2 linked regions of the Homo sapiens genome follow. The protein of the gene in region 1 interacts with the protein of each later gene in a pairwise test. Each region holds a gene or a part of one and is shown in the gene's direction. Other genes may lie near its edges.

Region 1 (3,600 bases):
CTTGAATTTGGGTGATGGCTGACAGCTGAGTGGAAATGGACCATGAAATGGTCATCCAAGCAGCCCTGGATCTGGGGAGCTTTGGGGTTGGAGTTAGAACTTTTAAAATGCATTAATGTTAGGTAAGCAACATAGGATGGTATCTGGAACTTAACAGGAGTCCATAATTGCTGTCAGAATTATTAGCATAGAATTCGGTTTTAAACATTGACTAAATTGAATGGGCGAGGTGGGGGAGGCATGGCGCCAGTTAAATAGCCAGGAGAGGCTGGACTGGGGACAGAAAAGTGTGCTTGACTGCACAAGAAATCAGAGATAATGGTACGGACAAGCCTAAGCCCATGTAACTGGTATCCGAAGAATTACTGCTAAGGTTAAGTAAGAATAAGTGCGTAAGAGAAAGAGGACACTTTCCATTGGTAGAGTGAGAAAAATGAAAGGAAGGTAGTTGGAAATGATCTCTTCCCCCTCCTAACCCCTATGACAGAACACCCAGTCATCAGATTAAAGCGAGCACCAGAGCAGGGGAAAACAAAGCGTGCTCAACTCCAGGGGCTGCACCGCGCTCTAAAGAAAAGACCAGATCCTCTTCCTTCCTTCTTTCCTTCCTTCCACACCTTGCAAGGGTCCTCTGTCCCGCACTGCGAGTAAATCATACACTTTGGAAGTTTAGCATTAGAGAGCCCAGCAGGGGAGAAAATTGTCTGCAAGTTAAAAAAAAAAAAAAAAAAAAAGTAGAACTAGGGCAGTCCGAGGAGATTGAAAGGGCAAAACTATCAAGCAAGAAAACTGTAAGTTCTGATTAGTTTTATGACTTTGCCTTCATGCCTCAGGAGCTCAACTGATCACGGCTTTCACGACAGGCTAAGGTGGGTGTTGGAGGGGCAGCTTGAAAATACCCTCAAAACTCTCCTCCAGCTCCGTGCTTTCAGATGCAAATGCCTCACGGAGAGATGGATGGGCTGCAGCCCCTCCTACTTTCACCCCTCTTCTTTATTTTCCTGCGAAGGAATCCATCTGTACAGATCCGCCAGGCGGGAGGTGGAGGAGGGTGCGCGAGGGTGCGCGCGTGTGTGTGTGCGCGCGTGGCGGCCGAGCGGCTCCGTCTTCGCGTTCTTTTCCAGTAGCCCCCACCGGGTCTCTGGGAGGCGCCGAAGTCTCAGTGGCTCCCTGGGCCGGCCTCCGACAGCGCTGACAGCAGGCGCCCGCCGCCCACCATCGTCGCCCTCTTCCCCTCCCTCTTCGGCCCCGGCTCCGGCGCGCTCTCTCCTCCTCTCCTGCGCGCCCTCTCGCCCTCTCTCTGGCCGCGCGCTCCCGCTGGCTCCGGACCCTGCGTCTCAGCTGCCCGGGCGAGCCGGAGGGGCCCCTCGCAGTGAGCAGACGCAGCGGGCCCCCGGCGCCCGAGGCCGGGGCAGGGTCCCCGCGCACCGCGGAGTGGGCTGTGATTGGAGGAGGAGCCCGTGCCGGGCGGGCCCGAGCGGGTGTCGAGCCGGTTCCTCCAGTCTGCCCCGCGCGCGGAGCTGCGCGCACTGGGTCCCCAAGAGCCCGCGGGCGTCCGGCAGCCGAGCGCACGTTCTTTCGGATGCACACGCCCGGGTCCCTGGCGTCTGACGCCGTGGGGAGGGCAGCGAGGCCCCAGGTGAGTGTGTCTGCCTGCGCGGGGCTGGGGAGGCGCCGCTGGGCAGATGTGCGCCCTTGCTGTGCGCCTTTGGAAGCAGGACTAATCAGTGAGCGGAGAGCGGGCGGGGATGTCCGTGTGGAGTTTCCCTTGGCGTCCCCAAGTTACTGCGTGTTGCAGTGAGATGTGGCTCTGCAAGGCAGGACAGGCTTGTGGACGGAGGCGGGGGCGTTTGGCCCGGAAAGCCGGTGTTGACAGACACCAGGTGCGACACGAGGAGTAGTAGTTGAGGGTAAGAGCAAATCCCGGCACTCTCCAGGTGCAGCGGCAAACATGGGCAGGCTGGAGCACTCTCCTCAAAGAGGACCACAAGCAGGCTCCTCCCTCAACCTCGGACTGATGGGGGCACAACTCCGCGCCGGCTGTGCCGCCGGGTTCTGCAGAGGTCTGAGGCTGGAAGGGGGTATGCGCCGCTTTGGGCAGGAGTCCTTTGAACCATTCGCTCTGGACACCTTTTACCTTTCGTGAAGGTGGAGCTCACTTCAGGGTGCTTTGCTTTTTTCCCCTGTAATTAGTATTCTGCTGATCTGGTTCATCTGCATCCTGCGTCCCCTCCGCCTGGCAGTACCTTAAGTGTGCGCTGGGAAAAGGGCGCCCTGCTTCTCTGAATGCATGGTGGACTTCTTCATGGGTGCACATGGTACACTGCTACTTGCCGGTATTCAACCTTCCAGTGTGGATTAATGAGAAAAGACCCGTTATTCTGTACCGCTTCACGTTTTAGATCGTTAACCCTACGGATTTCTTAAATGTCATAGTTCAGGTGAGTAAAGATTGGCAATGAGTTCACCCAGCACTGGGCAAATGGCAAACTATTGAGAAACCATCAAGGATTGGGTGTATCAAGGCTTTGGAGATCTGCAAATTGAACGAGGAATGTACTTATAACATCTTTTGCTTTGCAATAAATATCTTGTCTCTATTAGATCGTTTATTAAGTGAGACCTTTACGTAAGACTTGTCCTCATAATTTCTGTAGCTACTAGACAGGTGTTCAGATCATTTTTCATAGAGAAGTAGATAAACATAACTTTATACAAAAAATAAGAGAAAAATGTAAGTGACTTGTTAATATATGGCCCTTGCCAAGTGACAAGTATGTATTTTTAAAAGCAGATAACACCTCACACAAAAAATGTGTATTTTAAGAGTTTAAGAGCAGTAGCAGTCTTTTTTTCTAAAGGAAAGTTTGCATAGACACAATATCTAAATAGTTTTAAGAGAGTCTTTATAAAGGCAAATTGTTATGGGAGAAAAGAGCTAAGAAAAAAAATTAATTACATTTGAAGCGTTCAGTAACTCACCAAGAATTACTTCTTTCCTAAAGAACTAGTTAGACTTTGGTTTACCTAGGATATTTTCTTGTTCTATATGTCAAGGGGAAATGCATGAAGAATCCTTTTCTTTATTTTTAAGGCTATTTTGAACAGTATGAATTAAAATGCAAAAGAATTGAGACAGGTAGGAAGACTGGCAACTTTGTGGAAGTCTTGCTTCTGTGTTAGTGTTTAATATGGAGTGGGATAGCAGAGCAATTAGGTAACATCCAACGTCAATAGTCTTATCTGGGAAAGCTAGCCGAGTCTGTCTGAGGAAAGAAAAATAAAGAAAACAATAATCAGTAGCACAGACCATCACCCTGCTAAAAGCTATTAAGGTTTGCAGCTTTAATAAAAGGGCATTGTGCACTTACAACGTGAGATATTATTGTAATTAAGGGCTGCAAGAGGTCATTAGAATTGTGTTAATCACTTTACAGACTCACAAGTCTTCTTAAGTCTACTTTTATTGATTTAATAGCACAGAGCTTTTTCCTTTCTTATAAAAGGATAATTGTAAAGCATCTATATTACTGCAATTTACCCTTGAATTGACTCTAGTGTTTAGTGTCCAATGAAGAAGAGAGGGTGGAGAGCACGCGG
Region 2 (4,112 bases), on another chromosome or scaffold:
CGTTTTCTTCTCTGCACTTATAAGAAAGATCAAAGACTTTAAGACTTTCACTATTTCGGGCGGGCGCGGTGGCTCACGCCTGTAATCCCAGCACTTTGGGAGGCTGAGGCGGGCGGATCACAAGGTCAGGAGGTGGAGGCCATCCTGGCTAACACGGTGAAACCCTGTCTCTACTAAAAATACAAAAAATTATCCGGGCGCGTGGTGGAGGGCGCCTGTAGTCCTAGCTATTTGGGAGGGTGAGGCAGGAGAATGGTGTGAACCCAGGAGGCGGAGATTGCAGTGAGCCGAGATCACGCCACTGCACTCCAGCCTGGGGGACAGAGCGAGACTCCGCCTCAAAAAAAAAAAAAAAAAGGCTTTCACTATTTCTTCTACCGCTATCTACTACGAACTTCAAAGAGGAACCAGGAGTACGGGAGGAAAATGCAAGAGGACAAGGAGCGTGACCATTGAAGCACAGCACAGCAGGATGACTGCGGGCAGGCCTAGATAATACCCAGCCTCCCACAAGAAGCTGGTGGAGCAGAGTGTTCCCTGACTCCTCCAAGAAAAGGAGATTCCCTTTCGTGGTCTGCTGAGTAACGGGTGCCTTCCCAGACACTGGCGTTCCCGCTTGACCAAGGAGCCCTCAAGAGGCCCTTATGCCGGTGTGACAGAAGGCTCACCTCTTGCCTTCTAGGTCACTTCTCACAATGTCCCTTCAGTACCTGACCCTATACCCACCGGTTGTTTCCTGGTTATATTAGTTATACAACAAAGAATAAAAGTAATAGCTAATGATTAATAATGTTTACACTAATGATTGATACTGTCCATGATCATCTCTATATCTAATTTGTATGATAACTATTCTTATTCTAACTATTTTCTTTATTATACTGAAACAGTTTGTGCCTTCAGTCTCTTGCCTCGGCACCTGGGTAATCCTTCCCCACAGACTGACCCTCCCATTCAAGATACATCAATGTCAAAGACTCAGGAGTTTGACTTGATTCCCAGAAGTTTAACCATCATCTCCCCAGGCTCGGGACTCCCAGCACCCAGACCCTTCTGCTCACACCCAGCAGTCCAGGCCCCCAGACCCTCCTCCCTCAGACTTAGGAGTCCAGGCTCCCGGCCCCTCCTTCCTCAGACCCAGGAGTCCAAGCCCCCTGCCCCTCCTTCCTCAGACCCAGGAGTCCAGGACCCCAGCCCCTCCTTCCTCACACCCACGAGTCCAGATCCCTAGCCCCTACTCCCTCAGACCCAGGAGTCCAGACCAAAGCTCCCTCCTCCCTCAGACCCAGGAGCCCAAGTTCCCCAGCCCCTCCTCCCTCAGATCCAGGAGTACAGGCCCAGACCCTCCTCCCTCAGACCCAGGAGTCCAGGCCCCCCACCCCTCCTCCCTCAGACCCAGGAGTCCAGAGCCCCAGCCCTCCTCCCTCAGACACAGAAGGCCTACCCTTGCACCCTTAGGGGCTCCAGGAAATTAGCCAACCTGTCTTCCCTCTGGGTGCCCACTCCAGGGCCTGGCTTGGCTGCCAACTCCAGTCAGGGACTTTCAGCCACCCCTCCCCCCAGGTTATTTCAGGAGCACCTGCCTGGGCCTGGGATGGCTTCTCTGGTGAAAGAAACACCAGGATTGCATCAGGGAGGAGGAGGCTGGGATGTCCAGGGTCTGAGCATCTGAGCAGGGACAGATGAGGTTGAGGTTGGCCCACGGCCAGGTGAGAGGCTTCCAAGGCAGGATACTTGTGTCTCAGATGCGGTCGCTTCTTTCATACAGCAATTGCCGCCTTGCTGAGGATCAAGGAACCTCAGTGTCAGATCACGCCCTCCCCCCAAACTTAGAAATTCAGATGGGGCGCAGAAATTTCTCTTGTTCTGCGTGATCTGCATAGATGGTCCAAGAGGTGGTTTTTCCAGGAGCCCAGCACCCCTCCTCCCTCCGACTCAGGTGCTTGAGACCCCAGATCCTTCTCTCTGAGACTCAGGAATGTGGGCCCCCAGCCCCTTTCACCTGGGTCCCAGCTAACCCGATCCTCCCCTCCCTCATCCCCTAGACCCAGGAGTCTGGCCCTCCATTGAAAGGACCCCAGGTTACATCATCCATTCAGGCTGCCCTTGCCACGATGGAATTCTGTAGCTCCTGCCAAATGGGTCAAATATCATGGTTCAGGCGCAGGGAGGGTGATTGGGCGGGCCTGTCTGGGTATAAATTCTGGAGCTTCTGCATCTATCCCAAAAAACAAGGGTGTTCTGTCAGCTGAGGATCCAGCCGAAAGAGGAGCCAGGCACTCAGGCCACCTGAGTCTACTCACCTGGACAACTGGAATCTGGCACCAATTCTAAACCACTCAGCTTCTCCGAGCTCACACCCCGGAGATCACCTGAGGACCCGAGCCATTGATGGACTCGGACGAGACCGGGTTCGAGCACTCAGGACTGTGGGTTTCTGTGCTGGCTGGTCTTCTGCTGGGAGCCTGCCAGGCACACCCCATCCCTGACTCCAGTCCTCTCCTGCAATTCGGGGGCCAAGTCCGGCAGCGGTACCTCTACACAGATGATGCCCAGCAGACAGAAGCCCACCTGGAGATCAGGGAGGATGGGACGGTGGGGGGCGCTGCTGACCAGAGCCCCGAAAGTGAGTGTGGGCCAGAGCCTGGGTCTGAGGGAGGAGGGGCTGTGGGTCTGGATTCCTGGGTCTGAGGGAGGAGGGGCTGGGGGCCTTGGCCCCTGGGTCTGAGGGAGGAGGGGCTGGGGATCTGGACTCCTGGGTCTGAGGGAGGAGGGGCTGGGGATCTGGGCCCCTGGGTCTGAGGGAGGAGGGGCTGGGTCTGGACCCCTGGGTCTGAGGGAGGAGGGGCTGGGGGTCTGGACTCTTGGGTTTGAAGGAGGAAGGGCTGGGGTCCTGGACTCTTGGGTCTGAGTTGGGAGGGGGCTTTGGCTTGGGCTTCTCCTGGGTCTGAGGGAGGAGGTAGGCTGTGGGCTTGGACTCCCAGGGCTGGGACAGAGCCGGATGGTGGGACAGAGTCGGGTGGTGGGACAGTCCCGGGTGGGAGAGGTCCTCGAACCACCTTATCGCTTTCACCCCTTAGGTCTCCTGCAGCTGAAAGCCTTGAAGCCGGGAGTTATTCAAATCTTGGGAGTCAAGACATCCAGGTTCCTGTGCCAGCGGCCAGATGGGGCCCTGTATGGATCGGTGAGTTTCCAGGACCCTCCTCACCACCCACCATGCTCCTCCTATATGTCGCCCTCACAGCCTGGGGTGCCTTGTCTTGCTCATCCCCCCCGGAGCCAGACTTGATTCTATTTGCTCTGCACGCCCCCAGCTGCAACATTTGGAGGTTGAAGTTGTCATCAGTGTTTGCAAGATGAGGAAACTGAGGCCCAGGCCGGGGCGCCAGTGACCTCAATCATGTGATGTGTGGATGCTGGAGCGGCCTGAGGCTCAGGTTATTGGGAGTCTCGTGATTCAGTAACCCCTGCTCCTGCCCACACGGCCCCTGTGTGCACGGCTCATGCTGGGCACAGGGACACTCGGGGAAGCCATGGCCAGTAAAGTGACCAGGACCTTGAGTGCTAGGGAGACACCCCGCCTGGCCTGAGAGAGCACTGATGGCTCCGAGGGCTGGAATGTTCTCTGTGAAGTCTGAACTGGGAGGCAGGTCCCTGCAGGAGAGCCCTGGGGTAAAAAACAAAACCTGCCTTGCTGTTTTGTTTCCTAGAGGAGGGGCTGGGGGCCTGGACTCCTGGGTCTGAGGGAGGAGGGGCTGGGGGCCTGGACCCCTGGGTCTGAGGGAGGAGGGGCTGGGGCCTGGAACCCCGGGTCTGAGGGAGGAGAGGCTGGGGCCTGGAACCCCGGGTCTGAGGGAGGAGAGGCTGGGGCCTGGAACCCCGGGTCTGAGGGAGGAGGCGCTGGGGGCCTGGACTCCTGGGTCGGATGGAGGAGAAACTAGGGTCTGGACCCCTGGGTCTGAGGGAGGAGGCGCTGGGGGCCTGGACCCCTGGGTCTGAGGGAGGCAGGGCTGGGGCCTGGATCCTGGGTCTTACATCAGGAAAACAGAGGAACCCTGTCTCTGATCCTGTTTTTGTCCCCTAGCTCCACTTTGACCCTGAGGCCTGCAGCT

What was found.
Region 2: the proteins of CDH7 (region 1) and FGF21 interact in a two-hybrid assay, tested with the Homo sapiens proteins (one large-scale study listed by BioGRID and IntAct).

The regions. Positions count from the first base shown.
Region 1 is NC_000018.10:65,749,512-65,753,111, forward strand, and holds the start of CDH7 (cadherin-7 isoform 1 preproprotein), read left to right. Parts: upstream 1-1,500; 5' UTR 1,501-1,639; exon of another isoform or gene 1,640-2,441; intron 2,442-3,600. UniProt on the Homo sapiens protein: Cadherins are calcium-dependent cell adhesion proteins. They preferentially interact with themselves in a homophilic manner in connecting cells; cadherins may thus contribute to the sorting of heterogeneous cell types.
Region 2 is NC_000019.10:48,753,846-48,757,957, forward strand, and holds the start of FGF21 (fibroblast growth factor 21 precursor), read left to right. Parts: upstream 1-1,678; 5' UTR 1,679-1,939; intron 1,940-2,045; 5' UTR 2,046-2,391; coding exon 2,392-2,626; intron 2,627-3,080; coding exon 3,081-3,184; intron 3,185-4,084; coding exon 4,085-4,112. UniProt on the Homo sapiens protein: Stimulates glucose uptake in differentiated adipocytes via the induction of glucose transporter SLC2A1/GLUT1 expression (but not SLC2A4/GLUT4 expression). Activity requires the presence of KLB. Regulates systemic glucose homeostasis and insulin sensitivity.